2 separate regions of the Homo sapiens genome follow, and region 2 is linked to region 1. The links come from fine-mapping of genetic effects on gene expression. A gene starts in region 1. The other region holds a variant in brackets. All regions are shown on one strand. Distances are from middle to middle.

Region 1 (4,339 bases):
GGATTTGGGTTTTCTCCGCAGTTTAACATGTTTACAGACAGTCCTTTAAATTTTAGGCTATAGCTAGTTCTAAGTTTCATCTGTTGAGTAATTGATTGGTTTTGACTAGTTTCTCCTTCAGAGTCTTTATAAACACATATGGGTACCTTATCTGCTTATTTCCAAACAGAAACCTTTGGCTTTAGGGTAGTATTTTTTAAATGGTGAGTCCACAATCTATTGGGCCCCTCACCAAAAAAGGGACAGAATACAAAGTACCAGAGGACACTGAATATAATCAATGAATTAATTTTAGCTTTTTTGTTGTTGTTGAGACAGTCTCACTCTGTCATCCAGGCTAGAGTGCAGTGGCCCGATCTCGCTTCAGTGCAAACCTCGGCCTCCCGGGTTCAAGCTATTCTCATGCCTCAGCCTCCTGAGTAGCTGGGACTACAGGCGTGCACCAACATAGCTGGCAATTTTTTTTTTTTTTTGGAGACAGAGTCTCACTCTGTCACCAGGCTGGAGTGCAGTGTGCGATCTCGGCTCACTGCAATCTCCGCCCCCCGGGTTCAAGCGATTCTCCTGCCTCAGCCTCCCAAGTCGCTGGGACTACAGGCGCACACCACCATGCCCAGCTAATTTTTGTGTTTTTAGTAGAGACAAGGTTTCACCATGTTGGCCAGGATGGTCTCAGTCTCTTGACCTCGTGATCCGTCAGCCTCAGCCTCCCAAAGTGCTGGGATTACAGGTGTGAGCCACCGTGCCCAGCCTAATTTTGTATTTTTTAGTAGACATGGAGTTTCGCCATGTTGGCCAGGCTGGTCTGGAACTCCTGACCTCAGGTGATCTGACCGCCTCAGCCTCCCGAAGTGTTGAGATTACAGGCATAAGCCACTGCGCCCAACCTAAATTTTAAAAAACTTAAATAAAAAAAGAATCCTGATTCTGGGGAGTGGGTGTGTATGTGCATAGGAAGAGGCACGATGAAGGATAAAGTCCAAGATCTTACTGTTGCATAAATTCAGCTTCCTTTGTGAAATCGTTGCTGAAAGTCTGACCCCTAATACATCTTAGCACTCCTCAATCACGCAGTGTTTACCATTTGTTCCCTCAGACTTGTCAGACAAAAGTCCAGATGCGCCGGGCGCGGTGGCTCACGCCTGTAATCCCAGCATTTTGGGAGGCCGAGGCGGGCGGATCACAAGGTCAGAAGATCGAGACCATCCTGGCTAACACGGTGAAACCCCGTCTGTACTAAAAATACAAAAAATTAGCTGGGCGTGGTGGCGGGCGCCTGTAGTCCCAGCTACTCTGGAGGCTGCGCCAGGAGAATGGCGTGAACCCGGGAGGCGGAGCTTGCAGTGAGCCGAGATCGCGCCACTGCACTCCAGCCTGGGCGACAGAGCGAGACTCCGTCTCAAATAAAATAAAAAATAAATAACATAACATAAAATAAAATAAAATAAAATTTCCAGATTCTTCTCGACTTAAAGATGGGGCTACCTCAGGGTAAATCCATCTGTAAGGTTGAAAAATCTTAAGTCAACCATTGTAAGTCGAGGACCATCTGTATATGGCATGAGAATTATCAGCTGTTTATTTTCATCTACTTTGTCTCCTGAAATAAATTGCCTGAGGGCAAGGACTCTTACATTTCTTTGCCATTTTTGCTAGGTGTTCAATCACCGTTCACAATGATAACAGTAGGAAAAAGTGCGCCTTCTAGTAAGTGGACAAACAAGTTTGAGTACACTGCTCTGCCCCACTCCCTTGTTACGGGGTAACATAACAAGGTAAAGTACCTCCACAACGAGGCAAGACTAGGTCCTGTTCCTTAAGGAGCCCGCAGCCTTGTCTGTTCTGTTCGTTCCCTGGCAGATTACAGGCTGTGGAGATCCCTCTCCCCGCTCTCTAACGTGGAGTCGGCTGAGCACGACTCTCTCGCCCCAGCGCGGGAGGTCTGCGGTCTGCGGGTATGAGGCGCTCCAGGGGACCTGGCATCGTCGGCGTGCAAGAGAGGAGCGGACCTGAGACGCAAGGAGAAGCCCTGCCTCTGGAGTCCAGCTCCTTTCCTCTTCTGGTTTTCCTCGGAAGGGGCCAGGAGACACTGGAAGGTCCGGACGGCAGGGAAGGGGACGGGGTTCTTTCCAGTCCCACCCGTGTAGGGACACCTCTCCCCCTCATCCCCCGATGTACCCTCGCTGAATCTGGGATGGGAGAGACGAACCGAGTCTAGGCATCTGCGTAGCAGCGCCGGGGAGAGCGGGGAGCCCAGGGCGGAGCCCAGTCGACTCCCGGATTCCCCTGCCCCGCCCCCGGCACGAGGCCCCGCCCCGGCGGCCCCGCCCCTCCTCGGGACTCGACCGGGCTGCGCTCACTGCCCAGCCGGGGCCCCGGGAGCCTCCAGGCTCCCGCCCGCCCTGAGCTGCGGCCTCCGCATGGAGGGGCCACTCACTCCACCACCGCTGCAGGGAGGCGGAGCCGCCGCTGTTCCGGAGCCCGGAGCCCGGCAACACCCGGGACACGAGACGGCGGCGCAGCGGTACAGCGCCCGACTGCTGCAGGCCGGCTACGAGCCCGAGAGGTGACGCCCAGGGCAGAGCGCGCGGGGCGCATCCGGGGCGGGCGGCCGAGGAGGGCGCGGCGGCTCCGGGAACCCGGCGACGCTGCGGGGGAGGGGCAGGCCCCACAAACCCTTCCCCTATTACCGCCTCAGCCTCTAACTTCCCGAAACGCCACGCTCCCGGCTTTGGTTGGGGGATGCAGACGGGCACTGTGCGAAGGGTTAGGTGCTTCGTTGCACGGGGGAGCGGAGGAGAGGGAACAGGTCGTAAAAACCTTCCCTAAAATCTTAGCCCTAGATTGGACCTCGCTACACACCCGACGACACCCCGTTCAGGTGGCTCCAACTCCTGGGGTTCAAACAGTGCTTGCTGGAGTCCTGTCCGACTGACTTGGCTTACCCCTCCTTAGCTGTTTCCTCCTAGAACTATCTTCAGTGGTCTTACTGGCAGGTGTTGGTGTCCAGATGGATCGCCTTCGCAGGGCTAGGTGAGGACACTCTCCCCTCCTCACCATGCACTGAGATCTGAGAGGCTGCCAGTGCAGCTCACCTCAAGGTCTCTCCGAAGACGCAGGCCCCCATGCTGGGGTCTGTAGGGGAATGAGGGACACTGGAGGAAGAGTAGGGTAGTGAGCTGGGCCCCAGGGGGACTGGCTGAAAAGGAGACAGCAGCTAATCTCTGGATTGTATCGCAGCTTGAAATGCAATCCCACTGTCCTTCCGGTCCAGAGGATTTGGACTTCTTTCTCTGCCCATCTGCTGGTGTTCAGCAGCTTGGGGAGGTGACCTGGCAGCTGGGTTAGATGGGGGTGGTCTGGGGGAATTAGCCCGGCAGCTCTGCCCAGGGGTTGGCCGCTTATGTAAGAACTTTTAACGGCTTAAGGGGCTCCTCGGCAGTGGGGCTGCTGAGTTAGGCCCCCCTGTCCTGGCAGGCTGCCTCTCTAGAATTGACTCAGGCTTAGGCAACTCCCAGCCTTTCTCCTGTCCTAGAAATCCAGCTCCTGGGGTTCAGGCCGCAGGGCGATAGGGAGGGGCCACAGGGGCTGAATGAGCCGGTTGGGGCTTGACAGAGGCAGTGCTTGGTTAGAGTAGGGGTTGCAAACATAATGTTTCAGAGCTCAGGCCGGAGCCATGTGAGTGCATCCTTTCTCCAGATTGCACTTCTGCATCAAGGGGCCATCCCTACCCCCACCCCCAACCGACCCGCACCCCCCACTTGGGCTCAGGGAGCCTGTGTAAACCTGAGCCCCAGCCAGGTGGTGTAGTGAGATTCAAAACCTGCTGGCCAGACCTCCACCTGCCTTCGCCAACCTGGAGCTGTGGGAAGAGGACAGGATTCTGTGAGCAGTCCTGGGTTTGAATCCAGTGTTATTGCTCTCTGGCTTGAACTTGGACAGGCTATGCCCCCGACCCAGCTCAACAGTGCTAATGTTACTACCTTTTCTGCCCTTCCCCCATCTTCCCCTCAAGAGTGTTTTGAAATCTTGTTCCTTCAAATAGCCCCAGGCCTGATAGAGCCCTCGGGGTTCCCTGCCTGGACCTCAGTACCCAGCTGGGCACTGTTGCCCTGCTACCCTGAGGAAGGGGCTTGGACCTGCCTTCCTATCCCCACAGCTGCTAGGTGGGGGTCTCAGGGAACAACAGCCCTTCCTCGGCTTCGGAGGCCGACTGGTTGCCTCGGTGTCTCCTCCCCATGGAGGAAGCAGCTGGGGAAGATCAGGAAGAGGGTGTATGAGAGTGGGGGTTGAGGGTGGATTAGCGGAGTCTCTGGAAAAGCACAGCCTAACCCAGGGC
Region 2 (4,378 bases), 29 kb after region 1:
TAAAGACCCTTGTGGTTATATTGGGACCACCTGATAAACTCTGATAATCTCCTCATCTCAAAACCTTCAACTTAATCACACCTGCAGAGTTCCTTTTGGCATGTAAGGTAACACATTCACAGGTCCTGCATTATGGACATCTTTGTGGGGGTCACACCTAGCTAGGATGGCGACCTCTTCCCTAACTAGAGGAAGTAGTTCTGAACACGTTACCATGATCTCATGCTATCCTTGTGGGCAGCATGGATCCCCACAGTACAGATGACAAGCCTAGGTGACTCCAAAGCCTGTGGCCTTGTTGCAATCTCTAGGTTGCCTCCCAGATTGGAAATAAACCCCTCCCTCCTGGAGCTCCCCCATGGACCCTCTGCTTTGGCTTGCTTCCCTTGGGTTTGCATCTTGGTCTGGCCTACAAGCTCCCTGAGGCAGAGGAGCCCTGGCATGGGGAGTGGAGGAGGAGGCACTCAGGCACCATCAGAGTAGAAGGAAACAGAGGATTTTGTGGGCTGTGGGACAAGTGGGCTCTGGAGGATCTATGATTCCCCTGCCATATTTGCAACATTGTGTGTCTGTCCATTTTTCTGGCAGAGGGAGCAGAACTTCCACCAGATTTTCAGCGGAAGCTCCACCTCCAAGGATCAAGATAACCCCGTTCTGGGCTGCCCCTGATCCTCCCTTTCCTGGGCTCCCTTCTCTGAGCCTGCCTGTCACCAGGGCTCACTCAGCACCAGGGGATGAGGCGGGGGACGGTGGAGAGGGAGTGAGATGAGAGGCTGCTCCATGCTGCCCCCACTCCGCACCTGTTGTGCATTCCAGAAGGACCCACTCAGATCTGTCTGGCCAGAAGGCAGGGGAACTTTCTGGGCCACCTTAAGCCAAGGCAGGTCACCAAGGCAGCTGAATATGTGCAGGGACATGGGTGGGGATGGCAGTGCAACCCTGCTGTCTCCTCTAGATTGCTCACATCTGTCTGTGAGGCAGGCGGCCCCTTGCTGAAATGCAGATTGCAGGGGTAGGGGGCAAGAGTCTGCTTTTCTTTCTTTTTTTCTTTCTTTCTTTCTTTCTTTCTTTCTTTCTTTCTTTCTTTCTTTCTCTTTCTTTCTTTTTTCTTTCTTTTCTCTTTCTTTCTTTCTTTCTTTTTCTCTCTCTTTCTTTCTTTCTTTTTCTTTTTTTTTTTTGAGTTGGAGTCTTGCTCTGTCACCCAGGCTGGAGTGCAGTGGCGCGATCTCAGCTCACTAACTTCACCTCCCAGGTGCAAGTGATTCTCCTGCCTCAGCCTCCCAAGTAGCTGGAATTATAGGCACTTGCCACCACGCCTGACTAATTTGTATTTTTGGTAGAGACGGGGGTTTCACCATGTTGGCCAGGCTAGTCTTGAACTCTTGACCTCAAGTGATCCACCCACCATGGCCTCCCATAGTGCTGGGATTACAGGCATGAGCCACCGCACCCAGCCAAGAGTCTGCTTTTCTAACAAGCATCCGGTGCTGCTGGTCCATGGCCACACTTTGAATACGAGGACCTAGAGGACCTGGGCCTACTTCTGTCCCTTTCTCCTCTGCATTCGTTCAATGATTTGTGTCTTTGGAGCTCCCACAATATGTCATTCTCCACTTTCCCCCCACCAGCTTCACCCCCTGGCACTGGCTGTGAGGGCCTGGCGGGGGGTGGGGGGAGTTGCTGCCCACTCTCCTTTCCCTGGCAGGGTCTGGTCCCTCGGGGGCCGGGAATGGCCTTGCTCAGGGCGCCGGGATGAAGTGAGCACTCCTCCGCTGGGCTTCCTCGTCACCTTCCATGCTTCTGCCAGCCCTGCGTCTCTGTGGTCTCCGCCCTCCCAGCTTTTCCTGCCCTTGGCCCTCAAAGACATGACTTCACTCGCCTATCAACCAGCAGTGACCCCGCCTGGAAGAAGGAGGGT[A/G]GAGCGGCCTTCGCAGCTGTGCCAATGCAGAACTGGAACACAGCTCTCTCCATTGCCAGGGAAGGCTGATCCAGACACTTTATTAGGATTTCAGAATTTGGGGTGGAGTTCGATGAATGACTTATTACACCTTGTAAAACAGGAAGTGTGTTTTGAGCAATCTGCCCCAATAGCTGGAGGCACTAGTATTTCGGGTGTGTCCCCTTCACCCAAGCCCTCATTCCTAGGCAGGTCTCAGAAAGGGTTCCACTAGCGCCCCCTACAGGCCACATGATCAGGGCTCGGCTTGTGGTGGGGTGGGGAGCGCAGAAACATGCAGACCACAAGCTGTTTGCACGCATAGCCTGCACTCCAGATATCCAGCAGCCCACCCAATACCCAGGAGAGGGCCGGGGGGCCAGGGGAGAGAGAAAAGGAATGGAGGGCTTCGGAAGGGCTCCTCTCTTCTCCCCCAGCAGCCCCAGGCACAGAGCATGTCCCCCACCAGCCCCTGCCCCCAGCCTCCCTGCCCAGACAGGCTCTCTCACAGGTCAGGGAGTTAAGTGGCCCCAGCACCAACATTGCCATTTAGCAGTCCTGCCACTTACATCACGAAGGCCTCAGATCTCAGAGGAGACAGGGAGGAGGGCTGAGAGGAGGAGCCAGAGATTGCCATGAGGTTCCTTCCCAGCTCTTGGCTGCAGGGAGTGGAGAGGCCTGCAGAGGTGAGCTGGGGGCCTGTACTGGGGCTCCAGAGGGAGCATAAGGTGTCTTCCTTTATGCATCGACACCCTGACTAGGCCTTATGTGGGTGCTGACCTGGTGGCTTTGTTGTGGTCCTCCCCCTGCCACAGGCCCCTCAGCTGCTCCTCTGTTCTCTGAGGACCTGAGGGATCATGACCTGGGAGGGGAGGGGGTCACAGGCAGGAGGTCTCCACTCTTCTGATGCAAGAAACAGCTGAGTTCGCCTGGCACCTGTGGAAAGCCTTCAGGCTGTCAAAAGCCAAAGCCTCACTGAGGTTTGTTCCTACTTTGGTGTTGGTGCAGGAGAAGGGGCTTGGATCCAAGCCCCCAGTGCTGACATTGACCTACCACCCCATCCCCCTTACCCTGTGCTTGGGTGGTCCAGGGGTCTTTGGCAGGGTGGGAGGGGCAGGAGTGGGGGACTCTGCTCTAAGTGGGCAAGTTGTGTGCCTTTTCACAGTGACAGGAGAACAAGGACAGTCGGCCCTGGGGCCTACTTTGCCCTACAAAATAGATCAGTCTTGCAGATGGTGCATAGCTCCTCCCAGCTGCCAGCCCCCTCACCTCTTTACCTGCTGGTGAGAGTACACCTTGTGGCCCAGCCACTGGTAAGACTCCTCTCCTGGCCGCTTGCATCTCTTCCTTGCCCCCGGCCCTGTCCTGGTGTCCCCCACTACCAGTCTCTCCTGTTCACTGACCCAGATTTCTCCACCCCCTCCGCTGCACCCAGCGGCTTCATCTTTCACTCCTTGGAATCCTAGTCCTGTAGTAAGAATAGTAGCAAACACTCAGACAGCATTTCTATGTGCCGGGCACTGTTTAAAGCACTCTGTGTATATTGATTCATTTAATGGTGGCAGTAACTCTAGGAGGGAGAGACAATTATTATCCCAATTTTGCAAATGAGAAATCTGTTACATTGGGAAACAGTAAGATTGAGTTAAGCCTAAGGGCTGAAGAAAGAAGGAGATAGAGACCAGCAAAGCAGGCCTTGGGAGCAGTCATCCTTATCCAAAGATGAAAAGACTTGTTTTTTGTCATTACAAAGTAATGTGTGCAGCAGACTTCCCTGACCCTTGCCCTACCTACTCCTGATCCCCAAGAGCTACAGACACAAAGGGATGAAAAACAGGCACCCAGGGCTGGGCACGGTGGCTCATGCCTATAATCCCAGCACTTGGGGAGGCTGAGATAGGCGGATCACTTGAGGTCAGGAGTTTGAGACCGGCTGGGCCAACATGGTGAAACCCCGTCTCTACTAAAAACACAAAAATTAGCTGGGTGTGGTGGCACATGCCTGCTGTCCCAGCTACTTGCGAGGCTGAGGCACGAGAACCACTTGAACTCGGGAGGCAGAGGTTGCAGTAATCAGAGATCTTACCACTGCACCACTCTAGCCTGGGCTACAGAGGGAGACCCTGTCTCAAAAAAAAAAAAAAAAAAAAAAATCAGGTACCCACTGGAGGGCCCCTCTGCTGGCCTGTTCCCATTCTCCAGTCCTAGAATACAGGGCAGGAGGGGAGAAGGCCAGGGACCAGAGCCAGGAGGGCTCCTGGGTTCCAGGCTCTATTCCTCAAGCCGCCCCCCTCACCACTCTGCTTCTTGTTCACCTCCAGTTTTCTTCATTTCTCTTGGGAGAGAGCGGGACCTGGCCCTGTGGGTGCTGGGAAAGGTGTTCTGGCCTGCCTGGGAGGGGGCAGCCCCAGAGAGCTGGGCTGAGGTGCCCTCATTCCAGAC

Alleles and levels. Positions count from the first base shown, and alleles are read on the strand shown. Sizes are in standard deviations (SD) of each study's normalised expression.
For the expression in unexposed skin of the gene that starts at base 2,340 in region 1, allele A in region 2 goes with a lower level than allele G (small effect, 0.33 SD a copy in GTEx).

The links. PIP is the estimated chance that this variant, and not a neighbour inherited with it, causes the effect.
Region 2: its variant is the best candidate, but not a certain one, in a credible set for the expression of IMPDH1 in unexposed skin (GTEx, PIP 0.78).

What each region holds. Positions count from the first base shown.
Region 1 is chr7:128,407,983-128,412,321 of GRCh38, reverse strand. It overlaps IMPDH1 (inosine monophosphate dehydrogenase 1), which reads left to right and starts at 2,340. Exons shown (of 17, transcript NM_000883.4): 1 at 2,340-2,566; 2 at 2,838-2,881; 3 at 2,970-3,033. The coding sequence starts at 2,421. RefSeq lists an enhancer at 1,684-1,923 and a silencer at 2,194-2,813.
Region 2 is chr7:128,379,116-128,383,493 of GRCh38, reverse strand. No RefSeq gene overlaps it. Among named protein-coding and RNA genes, the nearest start is that of PRRT4, 20 kb to the right of the region's middle. The variant A/G (reference allele first, on the strand shown) is at 1,919.